Homo sapiens: one gene and its partners. The protein of the gene in region 3 interacts with the protein of the main gene of each other region in a pairwise test. Each region holds a gene or a part of one and is shown on either strand. Other genes may lie near its edges. The genes, in order: TSC22D1, MOB2, CCDC90B and TK1.

The links.
Region 1: the proteins of CCDC90B (region 3) and TSC22D1 interact in a two-hybrid assay, tested with the Homo sapiens proteins (2 studies listed by BioGRID and IntAct).
Region 2: the proteins of CCDC90B (region 3) and MOB2 interact in binary tests that used the Homo sapiens proteins (3 or more experiments, as listed by UniProt).
Region 4: the proteins of CCDC90B (region 3) and TK1 interact in a two-hybrid assay, tested with the Homo sapiens proteins (2 studies listed by BioGRID and IntAct).

What each region holds. Positions count from the first base shown.
Region 1 is NC_000013.11:44,573,317-44,580,781, forward strand, and holds the start of TSC22D1 (TSC22 domain family protein 1), read right to left. Parts: upstream 3,015-7,465; 5' UTR 2,759-3,014; coding exon 1-2,758. UniProt on the Homo sapiens protein: Transcriptional repressor. Acts on the C-type natriuretic peptide (CNP) promoter. Acts to promote CASP3-mediated apoptosis.
Region 2 is NC_000011.10:1,476,764-1,483,795, forward strand, and holds part of MOB2 (MOB kinase activator 2), read right to left. Parts: intron 4,124-7,032; coding exon of another isoform or gene 4,123-4,123; coding exon 3,962-4,122; intron 3,724-3,961; coding exon 3,630-3,723; intron 1-3,629. UniProt on the Homo sapiens protein: Stimulates the autophosphorylation and kinase activity of STK38 and STK38L.
Region 3 is NC_000011.10:83,258,554-83,262,372, forward strand, and holds the end of CCDC90B (coiled-coil domain-containing protein 90B, mitochondrial isoform 1 precursor), read right to left. Parts: exon of another isoform or gene 3,414-3,819; coding exon 3,358-3,413; 3' UTR 1,556-3,357; coding exon of another isoform or gene 1,504-1,555; 3' UTR 528-1,503; downstream 1-527. Other genes in the region: ANKRD42 (ankyrin repeat domain-containing protein 42), read left to right, coding at 1,504-1,555.
Region 4 is NC_000017.11:78,184,021-78,191,331, forward strand, and holds the start of TK1 (thymidine kinase, cytosolic), read right to left. Parts: upstream 3,033-7,311; 5' UTR 2,975-3,032; coding exon 2,909-2,974; intron 2,799-2,908; coding exon 2,767-2,798; intron 1,146-2,766; coding exon 1,035-1,145; intron 1-1,034. Other genes in the region: AFMID (kynurenine formamidase), read left to right, coding at 3,351-3,413, 6,950-7,040. UniProt on the Homo sapiens protein: Cell-cycle-regulated enzyme of importance in nucleotide metabolism. Catalyzes the first enzymatic step in the salvage pathway converting thymidine into thymidine monophosphate.

The DNA of each region.
Region 1 (7,465 bases), on a different chromosome or scaffold from region 3:
AGGGCTCCGCTGCACGCCTGGCATCTTCAATTTGGCTTCCAATTGCCTGAGCTAATGATTGTGCGGAGAACTGGGTAGAACTTAGTGGTATCTGTTGTGCCAAAGGCAAATTTGTATTAGTTGCTATCAAGGGAGGTTGACTAACACTTTGAACCAAATTACCATTTTGGGTAGCAGGGGTTTGTGCTATATTTTGTGGTGGAACCAAGTTTGTTGGGGCAGAAGGCATTCCAGAAGGACCAGTTGAACTAACCTGACTTGTAACAGAAATACTACTAGCAGAGGGCAAAGAACTAACTGCAGGCAACTGCTGTGAAACAATTCCTTGAGCTACTGGTTCTACTCCTTGTGGCTGGGGAGGCACAGTTAACAAGGAACTTTGGGATGCAATAACCAATTGTTGAGGAAGGCTTGGAGCACTAGTTTGAACTCCCTGATGAATAATCCCAGTTTGAGCAGGTGGAACCACTTGCGAAGATGGAGGAGCACCCTGCTGAATAACTGAAGGTGGAACCTGGGTAGAGGGCTGCTGCACTGCAGTAGGTATGTTTGCTTGCTGACCAATATTTGCAATCTGACTGCCAGTAGGTACAGCAGACACTGCTGCCGGAGCCTGGCCAACAGGCTGGACAGATGCCCCTGCAGGTTGTGCTGGGACTGCTGTGGGCTGCACTGGCAGCTGGATACCCTGTGGCTGAGCCACAGGAATCACTGTTGTTCCTGCTCCTACTCCTGCAGAACTGGGCTGTCCGGAGGACATTGCTGTTTGAAGAATTGGCTGCTGTTGTACATACTCTGAAGCAGGATTTTGAGTCACTGATTTGACATGGCCTGGGGCCATCTGTGTAGAAACCATTGGTTGCTGTTGTCCATACTGTAACTGTTGGGGTGGTGGTGCCCCTGGAAGGGGAGTTTGCACTGGAGGAGCCGCCTGAGAATATGGTAGCTGGGGTTGAGCCAAACTGGAAATGGAAGGCTGCTGACCTAAAGCTGAAGTTACACCAACCACATTTACAGGCGATGGCTGGATACCAGTTGCAGCACTCATAGTGGCTTGCAGAGGTACTGGCTGAAGACCTTGCTTTTGCTGATAGCTCAGTTCTTGAGACTGTAATTGTACTTGTGAGATCTGTGACTGAGAAATACTCTGTGGTATACTAACTGCTGGAATACTCTGTGGACCAGTGCTACCAAAATCCATCTGTTGGAGGGTCACACCTTGGAGAGCTGGTTGTTGCTGTTGTTGTTGTTGTTGCTGCTGCTGCTGCTGCACCACCACAGTAGGGGCTCCCATCTCTCCACTTCCCACACTCTCTGTATAGTGACTCAGTGTGCTGACACTACTGCTCACTGAACTCCCACTAGTGCTCTCCCTTTCAGAAGTCACTTCTATCGGATTTTGCTTTACAGTCTCCACCACTTTATTTATCAGCACACCTTCTGTAGCAGGTACAGCATTTTCTTTTTCATAGAACTCAGTGCAAGTCCATCTACCTTTTTTAAAGGGCTCAGAACTAGAATCTAACTTCACAACTCTGAACCTCGAAGTGTTAACTGTTGGTTGTTGCTGCTGACTTGAAACCGATCCCCCAGTCATCCCTGCAGCTGCATTAGGAACACTGCTAACAGCAGCAGAGGAAGAAATAGTACCATTGCCCATGCCACTCAAGATATTCACATTAACACCACTGGTAACTCCAGGCCCAACACTCACACCAGCAGCACTAGGAATATTGCTTGTACTTATATTAACATTACCAAGCATGCTGCTTGTCACATTAGGATTAAAACTACCCACAGCAGTAATGTTAACATTATTTACTGTACTAGTGCCAGTAACAGAATTTATACCTATTCCACCTGTAGTACTTGGAGCACGCATATTAGTCATTACAGATGCAGGTGAACCACTGGATGATACAGCAGAAGTTGGTGCAACTGGTGTGATACTGTCAGAGCTTCCAGTTGTAGAGAGTTTTCTAGATACTGGGCTTGAGGGTGGCCCACCAGTAATGGATGCACTGGCCACAGCAACATGAGATGGATGGTGGTGACCATGTTGGAGGTGGTGCCCATGATGAATCTGATGGTGGTGATGGAGGTGGTGTGGATGAGCATTCCCATTGATCACAACATTCTGTTGTGGAAGGTGAGGCAAATGAGGCTGAGGAAGGTGGGGCTGGTTGGGAGAGACTGCCCCAGGTGTCTCGGCTTCCTGGAAGTTATTTAGGGTCTCTTCTGAGGAGCTGCGTTCGGGCTCCCCTAAGTCAGTAGCCCTGGAAAGTGACACATCAAGGATCTCCGAAGAAGAGAGATCTTCCGTGTGAGATTCATCCAGATCATCATAGCTCTCAGTGTCCTCTGCTATACTGTTGTTAGAGCTGATACTAGCGGAGATCTGAGCAGGAGTAACGCTAGTTATCTGGAAGCCACTTTTCTTTTTCATTTGAGTTCCGCCTGGCGCAAGAGGCTGTGCCTGCAGCTGAGCCTGCGAAAGGAGGTTCAGGCTTTGTGGAGGCGGAGGCTGTGGTCCCGACGTAGAAGATGCTGCAGGGGGCGGCGGCTGAAGCAGCGACGGAGGCGGAAAATCCTCGGAAGATGTGGCATTACTACCGACGCCGGTACCTGCTGCATTGAGAGCAGAGGCGCTGCCACTACCGCTGCCCCTTCGAGGGAACATTGCCGGGTGCGCCATCTTCCTAGCGCTAATGTCTGCAGCGGCGGCGGCCGCGGCGGTGGACTCAGGCGGCTGGTGCATTGTGTTGGGTACCGGGGGCGCGGAGGAGACGAGTGCAATTTCCTTCTGCACCGTAATCTTTGTATTGGAGACGCCGGAGAGGAAAACGGGACCTGACGCTCCGCCTGGCGCGATTCCTCCTTCTCCTCCTCCTCAGCCAAAGGCGCCGGTCGCTCCTGCCTTCGAGAGCGAGCTTCGGAAAGGAGGATGAACGAGGGTGAACAGGGCGGCCGGGGACCCGAAGGGGGGATCCCTTCAGTCCTTCGCCATTCACTTTCCCCTCTAGCCTCACACCCCCCTTTATATTCTGCTTCACGTGGGGTGCGGGGCAGGAGGGAGGGGGAGAGCGCAGGAAGGGGAGGAAAAGCGAGAAATGCCCACCTTCTCCGGCCAACTCCGAAGCCGCCTCAGCCCCCTCCTCCCGCCGCGTCGGCGGCCGCTGCAAAGCCCTCCCGGCCGCTCTGCACGGAGGCAGCGCCAAGCAAATGTCGCCTTCCCCTCGCCACCCCCGGGGCCGCCGCCGCCGCCAGCGAGCCCCGAGCTCAGTGTCGCTCAAACCTCCCCTCCCGGCCCCGCTCGGCCCTCCCCCCGCGCCCCGCAGACCCTTTCAAACCCCCTGGGCTCGCGGCGGCTGCTCGGTGAGGAAACGCTGGCCGCGGCTGGGGCCGGGGCGACGCGGCTGCGAGCGGGGCGGCGGCGAGGCGCCCGGTACGGTGAGCCCAGCAACGAGGCGCGGGCGGGCGCGCAGAGACGCCGGGTCCTCGCGGAGCACGGCCGGGGCGCGGCGGCGGCGGTGGCAGCGGGAGCCCAGGGACCGCTCCATCACTGGCAGCCATGGAGCCCGAGCATTTTCCTCCCTCAGGGCAGGCGCCTCGACTCGGCACACGTCCTCGGGGAGGAAGGGGCCGGCACCCGAGCCTCTCCGGAGGGCGGCGGGACGTGCGCTAGGGCGGAGGGTGCGACCCTCTCTTATCCTCTTCCTCCGCAGCCGGCTCTTCCTCACCCCGCTGCTCCCGCGACCGGGCGGGAGAGGGCCGCAGGCGGCGGCGGCTCCTTTCTCCGCGGCGTTGGTGGCCAGACGGGCTGGTGCAGCGACTGCAGCCGACGCCGTTCAAAGGAACGAGGTGGGGTTGGTCGGTGTCGGCAAACGGGGCGGGGGAGTGAGTGGGTGCCGAGGGAGGGTGTCGGGCGGGGAGGGGGCTGTGGTGGTTGTTACTAGTGCTCTTCTTCGGCTCCCCCGGCTCCACCGTATCCCCCAGTCTCTCGCGGCATCGGGAGGGGAGGGACCAGCGCGGAGCGCAGGAGGAGGAGGGGCGACCGCCGGCGAGAGGAGGCGGTGGTGGCTGGGGGGAGGGGGCAGGCGGAGGAGGAGGAGGGAAGATGGCGTCTGCGCATGCGCCTCGGCGCCGCAGACATAAAGCCGGGTCTGGCGGGGCAGGAGGCGGCGGGTCTTCGGGCCTAGGCGAGCGCCAGGTCTCCCGACGGAAATTACCGAAGGCTGGCAGAGGCGCCGAAGCCGGGAGTGGTGGAGCCGGAGGGGATAGTGGGGGTGGGGAATTCCGGCCGAAGGAGCGAATCCGGGTCGGACTGCGTGATTCGGCCCGGTGGGGGCGGGCAGGGTGCGCGCCTGCCGCGCGCCCAGGTTAGGTGTGTCCGCTCTTTTCACACTCGCGGCCGGCGCGCGCGGGCACGCGGCAGAGGAGGGGGCGCGGCGCGGAAGGGCCGGCGGAGGCGGCGGGAGCGCCGGCGCTTGGTGTGCGCGCCTTGGGTGGTGTCCCCCGCCTGCGGAATGGGTAATGAGGCTTTTCTCCGCAGCAACAGCATCACGAGTTTCAGTTCCCAGGAGCCCGCCGCCGCGGCTGCTGCCGCTGCCACGACATGAGTCAGGCTTTCTTCCCTGGCGCGTGGCGGAAACCTCCTCCCCCTCGCCGCACCTGGGCTCGCCCCCGGCCCTTGCCTCCTCGGGGGATGCCCTAGGGCCGGGAGCTGTGGGGTCTATGGAAGGCCGGTGGCTCCCGGTGATAGGTGTTGTCTTTTGTGCAGTGCAGTTGCTGCCATGCGGTCCCCTCGCCCTTCCACGGGCAGGGGCGAGGCGGCCGGGCAGATGTTGCAGCTGTTTCCAGTTAACTGCCTGAGCTCCTCTGGGCTAGGCTCTTCTCTAACGAGGAGTGGTTGCAATCCATCCTTAACTGGAGGACAGAAGCAGGCCGGCCCTGTAATCGACTGACCTCAACAGGTGTCTCCAAGCAGCGACGCCTTTTTCGTTCATCGTCCTGGCTATATCCCCCATTGGTTTGACTCAGGAGGCAAGGTGGTCCGGACATGTGAGCAACACAAATGATAAGAATGCCTTTTAGGGCTAGAAAAGAAAAAGCCATCCGAAATTCCAGTTTTAAAATACACACACACACACACGTTACATTTCATGGGTCCAAATGTAGTTCTACAGAAGCAATGTTAGGTTTGATTGGGGGCAATTTACTGGCGGTTACTTTCTTGGTATTTCATGTCAAAACCTAGTTCTAAGCGTTTCTTACCAATAATCGAGAATGTAAGTCTTTCCCAGGAATTTAAAAATGATAAAGCAAGCCGAAAAACTGTAGGGAGGAATTTTCATTTTGTTAAATTTAGGTTGTTAGGGGAATCAACGCTTATGGTTAGACCTCTGATTCAGGAAGTCTCAAGGATTTACATTCCTATTTCAGAAGATTGTTAAAGCAAAAACGATTGTCATTTGCAGTTTTGATACACCTCTAGTTGTCAGTTCAACTTTTTACCTTTAGTTTTCTCTGAACTCTTCCCCTTGTTCCAAGGGGAAGCTTTCAAAAAGTGAATTATGTCACCATTTGCATGTTATTGAATAGAAGTGCACTCTTAACATCCCATTTATCCAGTGTCAAAGCTATGATACATTGTTGCTTTATGTGGGGTCTCCCACACTGAAAAGAAAAACCCGGACTTCATTTATTTATTTATTTATTTATTTATTTATTTATTACTTTATATTGCTAATGTAAACCTCTGCTAGAAGTAAATAGGCTCTCGCAAATATTCAAAGTGATACAGTAATAAACATCAAATATGTTTGAGAAGACTACTTGTTCTATGATATTAATATGTGATTGGTTGTTTTTATAGAACTATGGCTATTTGTGTTTTCACAAAAATAATTTCTTTTTTACTTTTTGAGCTTTTGTTGCAAGTAATATGCCTGGTTAATCGCTGCCATCCATTGTTGAAATGCAAATTTGACATTCTTTTTCAATAGTTTTTGAATGGAAAATAGAAACTACCCTAACCGATTGAAACTGCAATGGAATGTAGATGGGTGGAATGTCCTTTCTTTGGACTGCAGTATGAAAGAAAATGCTCTTGATCTCTCAAAATGTAGCCTTAAGTCAAAGGTTTTTTGTTTTGTTTTGTTTTGTTTTTTAAGTCAAAGTTTTAAATTACCCCAAACAGCAGCTGTATACCCTTTGGGCCACCTAAATAACTCACCATGATTGTGCTGATATGCTTTGACGCTTAATAAACACATATATTAAAGTCTTACCCAAAGCTGATAGAGTAAAAGAGCTGTTGAGATAGCCCCTCTGGAAGCAGATACTTGTTCTAATGACCAGTAGCAAAGGGTACTGTTTGAGCTGTTTTGATGGGGGAGGAAGGGTTGGGGTGTTATTCCCTTTAAAATAAAGGTTTAAAAAAAAATCCAGAATTTAAGACGTAAGAAAATAAGATCTTTTGAAGTGTATTAATTTTTGCCTGCCATATCACTTTCAAACTCCTGCTTAGGCTGCATCAAGTCCCACTAAGATATAAAGAGCAAGTCAGCCGGGCGCGGTGGCTCGTGCCTATAATCCCAGCACTTTAGGAGGCTGAGGCGGGCGGATCACGAGGTGAGGAGATCAAGACCATTCTGGCTAACGCAGTGAAACCCCATCTCTACTAAAAATACGAAAAATTAGCTGGGCGTGGTGGCAGGTGCCTGTAGTCCCAGCTACGTGAGAAGCTGAGGCAGGGGAATGTCGTGAACCTGGGAGGCGGAGCTTGCAGTGAGCCGAGATCAGGCCACTACACTCCAGCCTGGGCGACAGAGCGAGACTCCGTCTCAAAAAAATAAAAATAAAAAATAAAAAATAAAAAGGGCAACTCTACAGTTAGGGAAATCTGAGTTTCAAAAATCTGGGTCTCTCCCCCTCCAAAATTCTTACGACAGCAATATATGAACACAAATACGTTGAAACAAGGAGAAGGCACCTCAAGAGCCAGATTTTGTTATACTATCATCTTTTAATTAAAAAGGTCTGGATTTTTATTATATAAACATTAAATGCCGACTGCTATGTATAATAAAGTCATTAAATCCTTTAAACCAAGTACTTAGAGCTATCCTTTGCCTTTTGAAAGATCGAATTTTAGCTGTTTTCATTCTGAAGCTGTACCTCTGAATTACTTTTTTGTTGTTGATGTTTTTTGAGACACAGTCATGCTCTGTCTCCCAGGCTGTAAAATGGCACAATCTCAGCTCACTGCAACCTCCGCCTCCCGGGTTCCAGCGATTCTCCTGCCTCAGCCTCCCGAGTAGCTGGGATTACAGGCATGTGCTACCACACCCGGCTAATTTTTGTATTTTTAGTAGAGACGGGGTTTTACCATGTTGGCCAGGCTGGTCTCGAACTCCTGACCTCAGGTGATACATGCACCTCAGCCTCCCAAAGTGCTGGGATT
Region 2 (7,032 bases), about 82 Mb from region 3:
TGTCTCACAAATTCTGACATGCTGTATTTTCCTGTGTACAGTTTGTTAAAGTTTTTTTGTTGAGGCATCCTCTCGGACCCATGGACTACTCAGAATTGTATTAGTCTGCAAGTGTTTGGAGACTTTCCTGTTCTCTGTTACTGATTTCTAATTTAACCCCACCATGGTCAGAAAACTTACTTCGTATGGTTTTGATTTTTTAAAATTTGTTAAGGGCTCTTTTGTGACAGGTATGCTCCATCTTGGTGGCTAATCTTTGTGAAGTTGAAAAGATGGGTGTTCTGCTGTTGAGGCTGCAGTGCATGTGTCATTTCAATCCAACCCACGGGTGGGGTCATCGGGCTCCGTGCTCTCGCTGACTGTCTATGAGGCTCCATCACTGAGGAGAGGGCTGCAATCCCCGGCGATCATGTGATTTCTACACAGGCCGTCCGTTTGCTTTGTGTGGAAAGCCCTGTTGTCTGGCGCACACACATTTATGGCAGGATTTCTTCAAGAGCTGCTCCTTTTCTAATTAGATAACCTTCTTATTCCTGGTCACTTCCTTCCTCGGAGTCTCCTTTGGCACTGACATAGCCACTTCCGCTTCCTTCTGATGGGTGTTTTCTCAGCACATCTTGTCCTCTTACTTCTCACCCGCCTGCACCACAGCACCTAGAGTGGTGTGACACACAGGGTGCTTATGCCCCACATTCCTATGTTGAAAGCTTAACCCCAGACGCAAGGGTATCTGGAGATGGGGCCTTTGGGAGGCGATGAGGTTGCAAGGGTAGAACGCTCATGAACAGAACTGGTGGCTCCGTCGCCCTGCCTTCCTTCCAGCAAGAAGGTGCTGTCTGTGGACCAGGAAAGGGACCCTCACCAGACACTGAATCTGGCTAATCAGATCCAGTGACGTGGTCAGTGCCCCCTTCCTGGTCCACAGTGGATCTTCACCTTGGACTTTCAGCTTCCAGAACCGCAAGAAATAAGATTCTGTTGTTCACAAGCCACCTAGCCTATCATGTTTCGTGACAGCATCCCGAATGAAATACAACAAATGAGCTTCTTGTAAACACCAGAGAGTTGGTTATTTTAAAAATACATTCTCATAAGCTGCCCAGTCCCGTCTGTTCATCTGTTAGCATTTAGGTTTTCCACTATTTGCTGTTTGTTGCCTCTGTTTCTCATTCCTTATGGTATTTCTTCTTTCCTGCTTTCTCTTGGGCCACTGAAATGTTTTTGTATTTCATTTAAATTTACCTATTCTGATTCTGACTGCGTCTCTTCACATAAGCTCTGCAAGGCCTGCTCAAAGGGCTGTAACACGCAACTCAACCCCACATGCTCTCCATGGCACCCACACATGTGCTTCCACTGGAGCATAGCAGCTCTCTTGCCCACAGCCCCACCGCCGCCAGGCCCCACAGCCGCCACAGCCCCACCGCCACCACAGGCCCCACGGCCGCCCTGGAAATGGCACTGCACAGGCCCCACGGCCGCCCTGGGAACGGCACTGCACAGGCACTGCCGGACACTACTCTTGTCTTCTTGCACCATCACTGGCGTCTCCACAAACACTCAGTGGGAGGAGGCCCTCCTGTTGGGAGAACTCTGCAGGGAGCCTCTGGAACAGGTCTGCTGGCTGTGAGGGCTCTTGGTTTTGAGTGACTTTGGACACTGACTGGATGTGGAATTCTGGGATGACCTTTCTTTTCTCCCAGCACTGGAAGATGTGTGGGGCTTCCTTCTTCCTTCTGGCCTCCTGGGTTTCTAAAAGTGCCACGGTCATTCACTGCGGCATCTGTTGTCAGTACCAGGCCACCGCCGTCTGACTGCTGACAGAGGATGGCTGCCAAGGGCTTTTTCTTTGCCCCCAGTTCTCAGCATTTGGTTGCATGCATCTGCACGTGTCTGTGAGCCTTATTTGGGGTTTGCTTAGCTTCTTAAGTCTGCAGGTTTGTGTCTTTGTGGGAAGTTCTCAGCCATTATTGCTGCAATGTGTTTCCGGCCCCGCCCCCTTTCTCGTCTCCCTAGGAGTCAGACATCAGCCTTTTTGGGACTGTCCTACAGGCCCTAGCAGGGAGGAGACGCGCCTCAATCCCAGAGCCCTCACACGACCCAGGCAGACTTGCTGGTCTTTTGGGTGGCAAGTGGCCCTGAGGCCCTCTGAGAAGTCTCCATGTTTCTCTTAGTTTGAGTGGATTTCTGTCCCTTGGTTTGAAAGGATTCCTGGAAAGGCATTACATGCAATTAATTCACACACATCTACTACCACCATGATGCCAGCTCCAGATGAGAAGGACCAAGAGGCAAATCTGGGTGGCCTAGGCCCTCCAAGGGGACATAGGTCTGCCCAACACCACATCCTACACTCCTCCAAGGACCCCTTTTCCAAACCAACCCAGTACCACAGAACATGCAGGAGCAGAGCCTCTGGGAAGGGTGCCAGGCCCCGTCTGCCCAGGAGCAGAGGCGCTGAGCCAGCACTTGGCCACAGGTGGCTCCAGAGCCACAGTGGACACAAGGCTCTCGAGTAGCTCTCGGGTGCTGCCCTGCCACCTCAGGACCCATCTCCATGCCTGATCCATGGAGGCCACCGCCGTCTCACATTGAGCTTGCTCCCCTCAAAGCCATAAGCACTGTCCCCATCTTCCTGGGCCATGCCTGGCTGTGACACCTCATTTTCCTGGGGAATTAAGACAGTGAAGCCAGCTGTTGTCTGTACCTGCCCCGGTGTCACCCATAACCAAACCAAGCTGTGACCCATCATGGCCATGAGGGCAGGGCCCAGCAGGACTGAAGCCAAGGGGACGCCTGCCAGCTGCCTGTGCAGAAGCTCCCCTTGGCTTCTTGAAGGCAGAACTCAGCTTTGTCTGGGGACCACGTCTCCCTGTGCCAGGGCCAGGAAAGCCATGTCTGTGGGCAGGATGACTTTCAGGACGCACTCACAGGCACACATTCTGTCCCTGACCTGTGTGCACTGACAACAACGGGACATCAGGGAAAAGCTTCCGCCCTCCTCAGCCGCACATGTCCCAGGCTAAGCCCAGCAGACCCAGCCTCCTCCTGCCTGCAGCCTCCAAGGCTGCTTTCAGCAACCCAGGCCTGGCGGCGCTCCTTCCCATGCTACGCAAGTGAGGTGCTCAGGGCCACTAACGGACACCCATTTACTGAGGAAATCAGGGTGCAGTGCTTCCAGGAGAGAGCTACCAGCACCAGGCATGTTGGATGGTCACGGAGAAGGTAACTGAGCCCCCATGAAATGAATGGCCGAGCAAGGACCTGTGGCCTGCCCAGCCCAGCCCTCACTGTCCCATCCAGAGCTGTCACGGGAGCCAGCGGAGAAGGGCTCTCTGCAATCTTAGGGCATTCCTTCTGGAAACGTCTCTGTCCCTAGAAACATAGCCCATCAACCCCCACCAGCTCCTGCACCTTCTGGGCCCCACTGGGGACCTGGGTAGCTGGGCCACTGGCCCAGCCTGTGGCCTTTCCACAGGAAGGTGGATGTTGTGGAAGGCCTGTGCCAAGACTTCTCAGGGTCTCCAGGTGAGAACGGAATCTGAGAGGACAGGAGCCTGGGGCAGCGGGGGCTCAGAGCCCCACCGAGTCTCCCAAGAGAAAGTGGGCTGTAGCCAGGCAGCACTCACGTGTTGCACACGGCCATCGTCTGACACGTCTCTCCTGTGCAGAACTCGGAGATGGTGCTATACTGCAGGTTGATGTGGTGGAAAAACGTCGTGGCTGGAAGAGAAGAGAAGGAGCCAGATGTGAAAAACGCCAGAGCTGAGCCGCCCCGTCCACCCCTGCTTCCAGCAACAGGTGCAGGAGCTCGGCTGGGTGAGCTCTGCCCGTCCACGGGCCACATTCTCCCCTCGCGGCAGGGGGCTGCTGAGCACCAGCCGTGGGGGTCCCCCTTGAGGAGGGGCTTCGAGGAGGAGCAGGGAGGAGGGAGGGGGCCCGCCCCCAGGCCCCCGCGCACTGTTGCTGGCCAGCCACTCGTTAAGGTCAATCTCGCGGGGCAGCACCACCAGCTCCTTGAACTGGAAGTCGGTGATCCTGGCCTTGGTGTGCTCAGGCTCCAGGTAGGCCTTCCTCTCCTCCGCAGCGGGCTTCTTGCCATTAGGCTTGGCTTTGGACTTCCTGCCAAGAGAGGAGACGCGGTGTGGTCACTACACGCCCATCAGACCCAGGGTCTGCCCGGGGGGTCAGTTGTGGCCAGCGCAGGTGTAGAGGGAGCTGCCCGAGCCCATCGGGGCGACACTGCCTCCCTGCCAGGCTCAAAGGACACCAACGGGACACCAACGGTGAGGCTGCTCCGCAGAGGGGCCAGTGGAGCTGCCTTGCGTGGCACCTCCTGGGAAGAAGGGCTGGCGCTCCCACTTGCCACACGGGCCCCTGCACGGAGGGCATCCTCACCCCTCACCAAGTCCTCCAACCAGGGAGGGGCCCAGGGTTTAGGGCCCCCAGCGCCCACCTTCCAGTTTTCCAGTGCTCTTGGAAGGAAAGGAGAAGCAAACCCTCTCACTCCTGGCTTCTTTTGAGTTGGCCAGCCTGTCCCTGCCCCTGCCGCTGGTGGCCCCGGTGAAAACATACCACAGGCCTTGTGCAGGGCACCTGCCTTCCTGGCCAGCCTGAGAGCACGGGGCCCCTGGCATCAGGCGGCAGCCTGGCCTGCAGCTCCAGTATCCCTGTTGTCCACCAGGCCTGGGGAGGCCACAGGGTGATGAGGATGGGGGCCAAAGGTCTTTGTGGCAACCTGACCCTGTCCTTATTTTTTTTCTTTCTTGTTTTGAAAAGTTGCTAATGGTTTATTTAAGAGAAAGAGAAAGGAAAAATGCTCCCTGAATGCCAGGGAAATGTTTCCCTTTCAGCTTCTCACAGCAGATCTTCGCCTTAAAAGGAGACCAGCGCAGGCCTCTGGGGGCAGTGCTGGGAGTAGCCAGAGCCAGGCAGGGAGCAGGGGCAGGAGCAGGGGCAGGGGCAGGGGCAGGGGCAGGGAGGGGCAGGGGCAGGGGCAGGGAGGGGCAGGGGCAGGGCCCCTGGGCCCTGGCACTCCCACTCTGCCATCTCTCCAGAGCACAGGGCGTGGGGTCTGAGGAAGAGGAAGCACAGGTGTGGATGGGCCACATGCAGCGTGGGCACTTGGGGTCCTCACAGTACAGGGGTGGGACAGACAGGGTGAGCTTCCGTGTAGCCTGCAGCCCCTCGCCCCAGCACAGCGAGGCACCCAGACTCCACACCAGCCTGTGCCAGGCCATGCCCAGCGTGTCCACCACAGGGAAGGCTCTCCCCATGACGCTGGGCCTGGCCCTGACCACCGGCAGGTGGGCCTGCACCTCCCTGCCCTGTGCTCTCACAGCACAGCACACCACACCCCACCCGGGCAGCTACAGCCTGGGCTCGGCCTTCCCATTTGGAGGGGTGGGTTGCAGTGGCCCAGGCTGCCAAGCGGGCTACAAGCCGTCTCCCTGCTCTGTGTCTTAGGAGCTGTGTCAACTGGCAAGCTCCAGGTGGCAGTTACCTGGTGGTCGGTCACGCAGGGCTGCCAGCAGGAGCAGCTGTCAGCGCGCTCACTCTCAGGGTGTGCCCCAGGGCCCACTCAGGGAGGCTGCCCTACTGGCAGTTCCTGCCCCCTTGCCAGCCTTCCAGGCTGGGGCTACCTTCCACCTCCGGTCCTCAGAGAGGGCTGGGCAGGGGCAGAACCTGGAGACCTGGCTTCCCTCTCCCAGGCTCTGGCTGTGGTCAGGAGGTAGTGAGCAGCCGCCACTCCGGCACTGGCACCTCAGCCTCCCTGCCTCTTCCCGTCCACACCTGCTCTCCTAGAACACAGAAGAAAAGTACGCACGAGGCCCTCCAGGCTGGGCCTCCCCGAGCTGCTCCCCCAGTCTCACCCTGTCCCCAGCACCCAGGGCTGGCCGGGCCCCGGAGCTTAGTGCACTGTGAGACAAGCCTCCTGCAAGCCTACCTTCTTTGGACCGGGTCACTCATTCCCATGGGGCAGGTGGACGGGCACTGGCCCAAAGGTAGTAGGACCAAGGGGACGCGCAGGACATGGCCTCTGCTCCAGGAACGGCTGTGCGGGCACCAACAGAGGGACTTCCATGGGAAAGCCCCGAACGCCTGGCAGCACCCACGTCTCCCTGACCTCAAGTGCCCTCCTTCCCAGAAGGGCAGGCTCTCAGCGAAGGCCCAGGCCTGGGCAGGAAGCAGTCACTCTGAGGCAGCCCATTGCTCGGTCCAAGCCAGCGGCAGCTACCGAGGAGGCCTCAGAGCACACGACACCTCCATGGCACTCTTCTCGTCCTTAGTCATTCTTGGCTTTGCCCAGTGGAGAAAACACCTCTGCGGCGCCCCCCGCAGGCTCACAGGCTCTGAAACAGGCTCTGTGCCGTCCAGGCCCAGAGGTCTGCCCAGTCACTGCCTCAGTGGCCCAGCTGCCCCTCACCCAGGGAAGTGCCGAGGCCCTGCGCCCTGCTCCCAGCTCCCCCTGTGCTGCTGGCTAGGAGCCCCGGGGCACAGAAAGACCAAGTCCTTCGATGTGGAGGGAGGACTGTGGGAGCAGGCCCCGGCCGCAGGCAGGACAGAGATGGCGCTGAAGGGACTGGGGAGTGGACCCTGGACCTCAGCCCACCCACAGGGCTTCCGTGACCACTTGGAAGAAGCAGAAGGGCAGATGCTGTGTGCACAGCCCCCAAAACAAAGTCCCTCACACTATTCCAACAGGTGGGCTCTGAGCCTGGGTCCTGCCTGGCAGGCACCATGCACTTAGGAGGGCCGGGCCAGATGGAACCACCTCCTTCCTGCCTCCCACACACTCACCAGCCTCACCTCCCTCCTCCCTGCTCTAGATGACCTGTCCTGCCTGCCACAGGGGTCTGCACCCTGTTTGTGGGCACCAGCTGCTGCTCTGCCAACTTGCCCATCTTACACCAGGCCTAGCAAACTTCTCCTGGTCCTTTAAGAGCCTGTCAAATGCCACCCTCCCCATTCTCGCCAGTGGTACCCATGACGTGCCAGTCGGCCTCCTTGGCACCCAGCACGTAACTGATC
Region 3 (3,819 bases):
GTTTCTTCAGCTGTAAAATGAGGATACCATCTACCTAAGAGGAGAGCTGTGAAAATAGGTGAGCACATATATGTTATTTAGCATATTTGCCCTCATATAGTCAATGATAGCTATTTTTTTTCAAAATAGCAATCAGTAGTTTCAGTGATAATGACTACAGCCTTTCCCACTGCCCTTTTTTTAAATATTAAAAAATACTTAAAAAATAAACAAGTGTTACATATCCAAATTCTTCAAGTTTGACAACATTATAAGCTTTTAATTGTTTTTCCAATAGGTGAGGGTTTTTCCTGACTCTTGCCAAGTCCTTACATACTCTTGCCTGGCCTATTTTGTCACCAAAGCAGTATGGATAGGCAGGTTAGGATCTACACTGTGGCTATAAACATGGTGAAAGTAGCTAATCCTTGTGGAGGCTTCTTACCACTCATAGAAAATGCCTAAAAGGTGTATTACGCTCACTCAGTATGAATGCAGTATTTTCAGCATACCCATAATTAAATATTTAAAATATTAAAAAGTTTGGATTAAGGTCAACTGAGATTTATGAGTATCATTTATTCCACAGGCGTTTAACAAGTACCTCACATGTGTCTAGAGGCCTTCTGAGAACTTGTAGTTTAGTGTAGGAAAAAGATACGTATAATTGCTGTTTCATAGTGAAGTGCAAGTGCTGGAATAGAGGTATAGTTTTAAGGCATATAGAAACACAATCCTCTCATCCTTATTTCATATATTTCCATCACTGAAACAAAAATTTACCTGAACCCCAGAACCACCATCAAAATGAAGTTTCATGGAAAGGATATAGGATCTAAAAGTAATGGGGACAGGGTATGGTATGCATATTTCTATTCTTCTGTTATTGGATACAAAGCACTTTGTTTGCTAAACCCCTACAATGAGAAAGAACGCAGATCTATTTAATATTTAGTGGCTGTATAACCTGGGAATAAGTATATTTATTTGTTGGGGCTTGAGAAGGTCCAATAAATGGCATACCTCCTTTCCATTCTGGGTTGTGAATATAACTAAGATGAAGAATGAATAAACTAATATAGAGGCCTAAAAAACACCTTTATTTGCTGATAAAACTATTGGAGAAGTTTTTTTTTAGGAGACAGGGTCTCATGTGTTGCCAGGCTGGAGTGCAGTGACTATTTATAGGTATGATCATGGTACACTTTAGCCTTGATGAACTCCTTGGCTCAAGCAATCCTGCTGCCGCAGCCTCCCAAGCAGCTAGGACTATAGATGTGTGCCACTGTGCTCAGCAAGAGAATATGGGTTTCATCTTAAGGCCAGTAAGCTTCTTATCACTGAACTCTAGAACTGGACAGATTTACCCTGTCTCAAGCATTGCTCTACTGGGCCAGGCCTCATCCTGCAGAGGCAGAGCCTGATCCCATAGAAGCAGAACAGAATGAATGTCTCTTCAGATGGGCTGGTCCCAAACAGGAGTGGGGAGGAAGTGGGCTAATTGCACCTTGTTTCTCCTTCCAGATTTACAATTGGGCAAGTCACTTTACCTAGGGCAGAGTGGATAAGGGGATGAAGAGTGACGACAGTGTTATGCTACTGGAGCTTCCTTCACATGGAGGAAAGACGCATTCCCTCTTAATATTTTAGAATATTTTAAATCTTAACAAACCAATAATTTACTTGTTTATGTCTCTCTCCTTAAGATTGTCAATTCAATGAGAATGAAACCATGTTCATCTCTGTGCACACAGGGACTAGCATGCTGTTTGGCATATAGCAGGCAGTCATATTGGTTAACTGAACAAATGCAGTATACTTTGTTACAGTGGACTTTAATATATATGGTAACTTATTAATTGACTCAGTGAAAATTAATCTATAATATACTAAGAACTCTCTTAGGCAATAGAGATAAAAATGAATCAGAATGTAACAGGATAATGTCAAGGTTTTTCTTTTGAAAACAAACCAGCAGTTAGATTTTTGAGGAAAATATAGTTGGAAAGCCTGACTCTCACTCACTGGACCATATGGACCAATCTCTTGACTGCTCTATACTGCAGATTCCCTGTTTATAGCTAAACAAATGACAAGGCTATTTTGAATAATGATTGTCAAACTTTTATAGCTATTACCAAGGCATTATGAACTCAAAATGTTTACTTTCTGGTCTTGTCTTCTTGATCTGGGTAAGACTGAAGAACTAAGATGAAAAGGATATTTTAAAATTTCTTTGAAATTACATATGATTTACTAATAGATATTACTTTGTAAGAAAAAATATATCTAATAACAAAACAAAATACGAATTTAAATTTTCCTATGAGTTTCTTGAGAGTAGGTACTAGATATCAATGTTTGCTGAATTGAAGTCATTAAGAAAAGCTTTGTTTTATGTAATAAATTTAAGATGGGTTAACTTAAACTACATTAAGAAGCAGGGATAAACTGGTTTTTGAGTATCAAATATTTAAAAAATACATGTAATAATCAGAGCTCAATATTTAGCAACTCTACAGATTTCATATTAAGTGTTGTAATTTGCACTAAAGCACACATTTATTTATTTAGGTAATGGAGTCTTGCTCTGTCACCCAGGCTGGAGTGCAGTGGTGCTATCTCGGCTCACTGCAAGATTCTCCTGCCTCAGCCTCCCGAGTAGCTGGAATTACAGGCATGTGCCACCATGCCTGGCTAATTTTTGTATTTTTAGCAGAGACGGGGTTTCACCATGTTGGCCAGGCTGGTCTAGAACTCCTGACCTCAAGTGATCCACCCGCCTCAGCCTCCCAAAGTGCTGAGATTACAGGTGTGAGCCACCGCGCCTGGCCTATCATTTTAAAATTTATTGTTTTAGTTCATTACCAAAAAGAAATCAATCTCCAACTATATGGTAAGTCACTTTGAAAACCCACACAACTTTGTTGTAATAATCTTTCATTTTATAGAAAAATGTAATTATGCAATGGTTATCAGGAAAGTTAATTCAGTAATAAATATGTAGGCTAGGGAATGGTTTACAAATATTCAACCAATACCCACAAAATCCTGTATGATTTACACAACTGTTCAAGCAAACATAAGAAAACTCTGGTTCAATTTCTATTAACTATCAAAAGGACAAAATGCTCTTCTATCTCAAACCAGGTCTGAGTGACAGCTTTTCAATATAATAAAGACACACACCTGCACTCACACACACACAATAAAGACACAGTATCTCTTCTCATTCTAAAACACTTCCTCTTTTAGTCCGTATACACTTCGAATAATCTTGTGTAGTAAATTTTTGCTGCAACTGACAATGTTCAAAGTAAATCTCTCCCGGTTTGGTGTTCTAAGAAGCCAACAGCCACAGCAGGATGAGCATTAATACTACTTCCAGAATCTATAAAATCCCAATGCTATTGCCAGGCAAGTAAACACCGAAGCTGTGAAAAGAAGAAACTGTGTTATAGGTCTTGTATCTGTAATTATTTTGCAGAGATAAAGAGAATAATGTTATCTTTAAGTGAAGAGCAAAAAACAGGAAATCCAACCAATTTTCTATCCTATGTTTTTTATTCCCTAGACAATTAAGTATGAAAGACATTCTTAAGGGCAGCCTTAATGCCTAATTCTTCTTAAAAGCACCTGTATATTAAAATGTAAATTATGTCATTTAGAAACCTATAACCTGTATTTAAAATCATTAACGCTAGCATTATTGACTACTTTAAATAATTATAAGCTCTAATTTCAGATCTCATGATAAATGAAATCTTTCTTATATTAAAAAATTACGTAGTTAGGCTAGTAAAATATACATATATCTGTGAGAAGAGAATTTTAATTGCC
Region 4 (7,311 bases), on a different chromosome or scaffold from region 3:
CAACAGCTGGAACGAAGTGACCTCCTCTGCTTTCCCTGTCCCCACCAGGTGTAACACCACCCTGTGCCGTGGACATCGCATCTTAGGAATGAGGAAGCAAATTTGGAAAAGTAAATGACCTACATCAGACAGCATGGTCACGAAGTGCGGTTAAATTCCCACATGCAACTCCAAGCCCCAAGCACCCTCCACTCCACCAGCATCTGGCTTCAGGAGCCCCTCAGCTCCCACCGAAGGCCACACGCCGGGTGGATCTGTTCTCTGCACAGCCATAGCAACTCTCGGATACAGCTCCCAGCCAGGGCTCTGAGGCTGAAGCCCTATAATGTGTGGCACAGCATGGCTTTGCCACTGGGTGCCCAGGTGGACAAGTCCAGAGGACCAAGCAAAGCGTCTCAGGCTCAGAAACATCAGGCCCACATCTGCTGCCAAGGAAGTGAATTTAACTCCCAAACTGAGGTTGCAGGCGGAAATGTCCAGCGAGCTCAAACAGCTACACATAAAACAGGGAAGCGTGAAGGCTGCCAGGTGACGGGGGAGCCAGCCAACAACGGACAACTAAAAAATTAAACAAAAATCAACGTGCAGGCCAAACCAAACCAGTCTGCAGCCTGTGTGAAGCTGAAACCCTACGGCAGAGTTTCTGAACACTGGCAGGCTCCTGACATTTGGGGCCAGCTCGTTCTTGCATGGGGGCCGTCCTCTGCACCATAGGACCCTTAGCAGCAGTGTCCCTGATTTCTACACATTAAAGCCCAAAAGCATCCCCTCCCCCCTCCAGTTGCAACAACTAGAAATGTCTTCAAACATTGTCAAATGGACCCTGGCGGCAAAATCACCCTCAGTGGAGAACCACTGGCTCCAGCCCAGGGAGTGGAGAGTGTGCGCTACCTTGCCAAGCACCTTGGAAAGTGTGCTGATTTGAATCATTCAATGTTCAAATGATTAACCATCCCCATTAAAGAGAGTCCTAACAGTGTGTCCTGTGCCTTGTGATTTTCCACTGGACAGGACTGCAGGGGGCAGGGACTGACCGGTCATGTGTGCAGAAGCTGCTGCTGTAGCGAGTGTCTTTGGCATACTTGATCACCAGGCACTTGTACTGAGCAATCTGGAAGCGACGGACGCGTCTCATCAACTCTGTGCTGCAAGAGGAGAGAGGGTCAGGTGAGGTCCACGGCGGGAGGAGTGGGAGAAGGAGACCCCTCCCCAACAAGCCTGGCTCCTCATTGTCCCTAGTGGTATGCAGACTGAGCCCACCACAGCCAGAAAAGAGCAGGGCAGAGCAGGCAGGGTATAATATCCCTACAAAGAGGGTTGGAAGTCAGAATTCTCTATGGGGAAGAGGTCCAGGAATGGTACTCAGGTGGTCCCAGGAAGTGTGGGAGGAGTAACCTTCTCCAAGATGTAGTGGGGAAGGCAGAAGCAAAGGCTACATGTAGAGGGAACCTGCGACTGCATTCCAAAGTAACCTCATCCCAGAGTTGTTCCCAGAGTTCAGAGTTTTTCTTTCTTTCTTTTTGGGGTGGAGTCTCGCTCTGTTGCCTAGGTTAGAGTGCAGTGGAGCGATCTCAGCTCACTGCAACCCCTGCCTTCCGGGTTCAAGAGATTCTCCTGCCTCAACCTCCCGAGTAGCTGGGATTACAGGAGGCTGCCACCATGCCCAGATAATTTTTGGTTTTTTTTTTCAGTAGAGATGGGGTTTTACCACGTTGACCAGGGTGGTCTCAAACTCCTAACCTCAAGTGATCAACGCACCTCAGCCTTCCAAAGCGCTGGGATTAAAGGCGTGGGCCACCACACCTGGCATACAGCTTTTCTAAATTAATTTCAGAAAGTCTTTGTGTGCAGCGTCAAAAGCACTTGCTTCTGGGTCCAAGAAGTCCAACTCTGAGCCACATCTTCCTGAGCAAGGGGTTTGAGCTGAAGTGATCCCCAGGGCCATAAAAGAATGTTGGGGCAGGGCATGGTGGCTAACATCTGTAATCCCAGCACTTTGGGATGCTGAAGTAGGAGGATTGCTTGAGACCAGGAGTTCAAGACCAGCTTGGGCAACATAGCAAGACCCCAGCTCTATAAAAATAAAATAAAATTAGCTGGGTGGAGGCGGGGGGGTGCACGCCTGTAGTCCCAGCTACTTGGGAGGCTGAGGTGAGAGAATTGCTTGAGCCCAGGAGTTTGAGACCAGCCTGGGCAACATAGCAAGATCCTACCTCTAGAAGAACAAAAACAAAACAAAAAGAATGGTGCGTGGGTAGTTTACTCAAGAAACTCACTAGCCCCACCCGGGTCAGGGAATGGTTCTATCACCTCAGGAGAGCAGAGGCTCCACGGCTTCAGACTCCTTGGTTTAGAAAGCGACTACGTTTCCTTGGCCTTAGAAGGAAACAGCCACATTGAATAGGGGTGTACAAAAAGGCCTGGCCTACAGGGGACACAACTGGTTGCCACCTTCTCAGAGGACTTGGTGGGGAAGACAGCTAAGCTGTAAGCAGCTGTCACCAGCTCCAGGAGGGAGTGGCGTCCACACAGGACGAGGGGCTTGGCCTGGGCAGAAGAGGGCAGAGACTTCCTCCTGGACTGAATTCAAGGGAGGAGCACCCCAGGCGGGAGCTGTAGGAGGCTGTGCTGGTCCTTCTAGGGGAAGGGAAGGGGAGGGAAGGGAAGGGGAGGGGAGGGGAGGGGAGGGAAGGGGAGGGGAGGGACGGGACAAGGGGTCCCCGGAGAAGAGGAAGGAGCTCCACCCCAGCCCCGCGAAGCCATTACCTTTTTCCTGAGAACATCGGCCCGAGAATCACCTAGGAGAGAAGGTGAGGTCATTTGAGGGCCCGCCCTGCGCGGATGCCTGGACACAGGCTATCACCACGACCACCTCATCCCCAGCCACGCGCAGGGCTGGCCCCCGCACCTGGATCTGCCCCCGGGTCTTGCTGGGGGAGCCAGGCAGCACAGTGGGCAGGTTAATGCAGCTCATTGCGCCTCCGGGAAGTTCACGAACCCGAGTACTCTCCAAGGCCGTCCCGCAGTAAGCCCCTGGTTCCCGCGCCGACCGCTTTAAACCACGGCGTGCTGGCCAATCACGAGCCGGCCCCGCCGCCATGGGGCCAATCAGCGCCCGGCCGCTGACCTGGCGGGAGATTTGGCCGCAGCCCGCCCCCTCGTGGGAGGAATCCGGGACGTGCGCCCAGGGACTGGGAGGGCCTGGAAATCAGGGCGATGGACGTGGCTGATCGGGGTGGGGCCTGGTCTGAGCCCCGCCTCGGTCCGCCCACCAAGTTTAAAGGGGCGGAGCGAGGCGGGGCTCTGGCCATATAAACAGAGGGACGCACGCCCATGCGGCTGTAGACGCCATGATGGATGTGTCTGGTGTGGGTTTCCCAAGCAAGGTTCCTTGGAAGAAGATGTCTGCAGAGGTAGGTGGATTGCAGGGAGGGACTAAGGGGCTGGGGCGGAGTTAGCTCATTTATTAGATTGGAATTCCAAGAAGGAAGCTTAGAAGCCGTCTAGAGCACTCCTGTGGGCATGCAGAGCGCCTAGTGCGTGCCAGGTCCCCAGTGCTTGAGCACCATGGTGTATTTTACCTTCTCCTAAGGATTTTTGTTAACCTGGTTTTCAGGATAAAGAAAATTGAAGTCCTGACTATGCTAATAATATCCGTAGACCCTGCCAGGCGTGGCGGCTCACACCTGTAATCCTAGCACTTTTGGCGGATCACGAGGTCAGGAGTTCGAGACCAGCCTGGCCAACATGGTGAAACCCCGTTTCTACTAAAAATACAAAAATTAGCCGGGCGTGGTGATGTACCTCTGTAATCCCAGCTACTGGGGAGGCTGAGACAGGAGAATCGCTTGAACCCAGGAGGTGGAGGTTGCAGTGAGCCGAGATCATGCCATTTGTACTCCAGCCTGGAAGGCTGGGCGATAGACCAAGACTTAGTCTCAAAAAAAAAAAAAAAAAAAAAAAAAAAAATCCATAGACCCGCAGGAGGTTAGGGGACAAAGTTCTGGACCTTGATCTGAGGTTACACAATGTTTTTGGGTCTGTGCTTATGTGGCACAGGCTGAAGGATTCAGAACAGCTGGTATTTACATTGGGGTTGTGAAGGTTAGAAACATACAGGCCGGGTGCGGTGGCTCAAAAAAAAAAAGAAAGAAAGAAAAGAAACCCATTGTATAATCATGATCATAAATAATAGCAACAAAGATGGTGGTAGTGATCACAGAGTGTGCCAGGTGTGGCTGTAAGGATCCTACAGGTAATAACCTTTCCAGGTACAGATTGGACAGATCCAAGGACCTCTGACAAAGAGCTCCTTCACTGGGAGGAAGAAGCAACCCACACTGACTGGCTTGCTTTATTTTACTCGCATGCTTTATCTCTTTTAACCTTGTGATTTGGATACATGCCTTCTTTTTTTGAGACACAGTCTCGCTCAGTCACCCAGGCTGGAGTGCAGTGGCATGATCTCGGCTCACTGCAACCTCTACCTCCCGGGTTCAAGTGATTCTCCTGCCTCAGCCTCCCGAGTGGCTGGGATTACAGGCACACTGTAGCTGGTACTACATGCCTGGCTAATTTTTTTTTTTTTTCTTTTGAGACAGAGTCTCGCTCTATCGCCCAGGCTGGAGTGCAGTGGCGCGATCTGGGCTCACTGCAACCTCTTCTTCCAGGGTTCACGCCATTCTCCGGCCTCAGCCTCCTGAGTAGCTGGGACTACATGCGCCCGCAACCATGCCCGGCTAATTTTTTTGTATTTTTAGTAGAGATGGGGTTTCACTGTGTTAGCCAGGATGGTCTCCAACTCCTGACCTCATGATCCGCCCCCCTTGGCCTCCCAAAGTGCTGGGTTTACAGGCATGAGCCACTGCGCCTGGCCAATTTTTGTATTTTTAATAGAGATGGGGTTTCGCCATGTTGGACAGACTGGTCTTGAACTCCTGGCCTCAAGTGATCCACCCGCCTCGGCCTCCCAAAGTGCTGAGATTACAGGTGTGAGCCACTGTGCCGGGCCTGGATAGATACCTTCTACCAGTCAGGAAACTGAATCTCAGAGACTAAGTAACTTGTTGAGGATAAAACAGTAAGTAAGTGAGGGAGGTCAGATGGCATTTGACCTCAGGCCTTGCCATGAGGCTGCCCTGACTTCCCATTTCTCATGATGGTTTTGAGCCCTTTCTTCAAAATCTGGTTCCTTGTTACTTTTTTTTTTTTTTTTTTTTGAGATGGAGTCTCGCTGTTGTCACCCAGGCTAGAGTGCAATGGTGGGATCTCAGCTCGCTGCAACCTCCACCTCCCGAGTTCCAGCGATTCTCCTGCCTCAGCCTCCCGAGTAGCTGAGATTACGGGCGCCCGCCACCATGCCCAGCTAATTTTTGTATTTTTAGTAGAGACGGAGTTTCACCATGTTGGCCAGGATGGTCTCGAACTCCTGACCTCAGGTGATTCACCCGCCTCAGCCTCCCAAAGTGCTGGGATTACAGGTGTGAGCCACCACGCCCAGTGTTTTGTTTTTTTTTTTTTGAAACAGGGTTTTGCTCTCTCAGGCTGGAGTGCAATGGCGCAATCTTGGCTCACTACAATCTCTGCTTCCTGGGCTCAAGCGATTCTCCTGCCTTAGCCTCCCGAATAGCTAGGACTACAGGTGTCCACCACCATGCCCGGTTGATTTTTCATATTTTTCGTAGAGATAGTGTTTCGCCATATTGCCCAGACTGGTCTGGAACTCCTGGACTCAAGTGATCTGCCTATCTTGGCCTCCCAAAGTGCTGGGATTACAGGCGAGAGCCACCGTGTCCAGCATTTTCTGTTGGTTTTTTTTTTTTTTTTTTTGAGATGGGGTCTCACTCTGTCGCCCAGGCTGGAGTGCAGTAGCATGATCCCGGCTCACTGCAACCTCTGCCTCCCTGGTTCAAGCTATTCTCCTGCTTCAGCCTCCTGAGTAGCTGGGATTACAGGCGCGCGTCACCATGCCTGGTTAATTTTTGTATTTTTAGTAGAAATGGGGTTTCATCATGTTGGTCAGGCTGATCTTGAACTCCTGACCTCGTGATCCCGCCTCCGCCTCCCAAAGTGCTGGGATTACAGGCGTGAGCCACCGCGCCCAGCCTCTGTTTTTTTTTTTCTTTTTTTAATTCTCCAAACTGCCTCAGAATGGTTCCTTGTTACTTTCTGCATAAAGTGTGAAGGTGTTAGCCCGACATTCACCGCCCCTCCTCCTCCAGCCCAGCCTCCCAGCCTCACCTCTGTGTGTCAGCCATAGGGCCTGCCAGCATTTGCAAACTGACCTTTCATTCCTTCCTCCTCACCTCTGTGCCTTTGACTGTGCAGTGACCTCCTGTGGTCAGAATCGCACCCTCTCAGCGCAGATCAGCTCCTCCTTTTTTAATTTTTTTGAGGTAGAGTCTTGCTCTGTCGCTAGGCTGGAGTGCAGTGGTGCGATCTCGGCTCACTGCAACCTCCACCTCCCAGGCTTAAGCAATTCTCCTGCCTCAGCCTCCCAAGTAGCTGGGATTACAGGTGCACACCACCACGCTCGGCTAGTTTTTGTTTTCAGTAGAGATGGGGTTTTGCCATGTTGGCCAGGCTGGTCTCAAACTTCTGACTTCAAGTGATCCACCTGCCTCAGGCTCCCAAAGTGCTAGGATTACAGGCGTGAGCCACCGGGCCACCTGGCCTCCCCTGGTCGTAACTGCTGTGGGAGTGGTGCCCATGATGGCATTAACTGAATTCGTTTGGGGGACCTCATCTCCCCTTAAGGCTGCCAGCTGGCTAAAGGCACAGCGGTCGCTGGTATACCTCTAGACCATGGATCTGAGGGCATCTTGGAGACCCTGGGATACTGGGGCGAGGGCTTCTAAGGCAGAGAGGAGCAGCCGGGCATGGGCGAGGGGGAGGGGCACACTCTGTTGAGAAGGAAAGTCTTACGGAGCCTCATGTTTGTGCCCTGCAGGAGCTGGAGAATCAGTACTGTCCCAGCCGATGGGTTGTCCGACTGGGAGCAGAGGAAGCCTTGAGGACCTACTCACAGATAGGAATTGAAGGTACTAGTGTGACCTCTCCGTGGCCGCATTGGGTGTCCTTAAGCATGTGGCAGTGATTCAGAATGCTGGGGGTTGGGGGGGCTGTGCTGCACCACCTGGGCCTCGAGGGGCATTTCCCAAACACCAGGCACTTTATAAACCTCCCTGCTCAGGGGCAGGTGCCCAGGACCCCTTGCTGCAGGGACTACTGGAGGCAGGAGAGGTCCGGGGGAGGTCCACGGCTCAGTCGACCATGCCTGGCCTTTCTTGCTCAGCCATCCATACCCAGGCC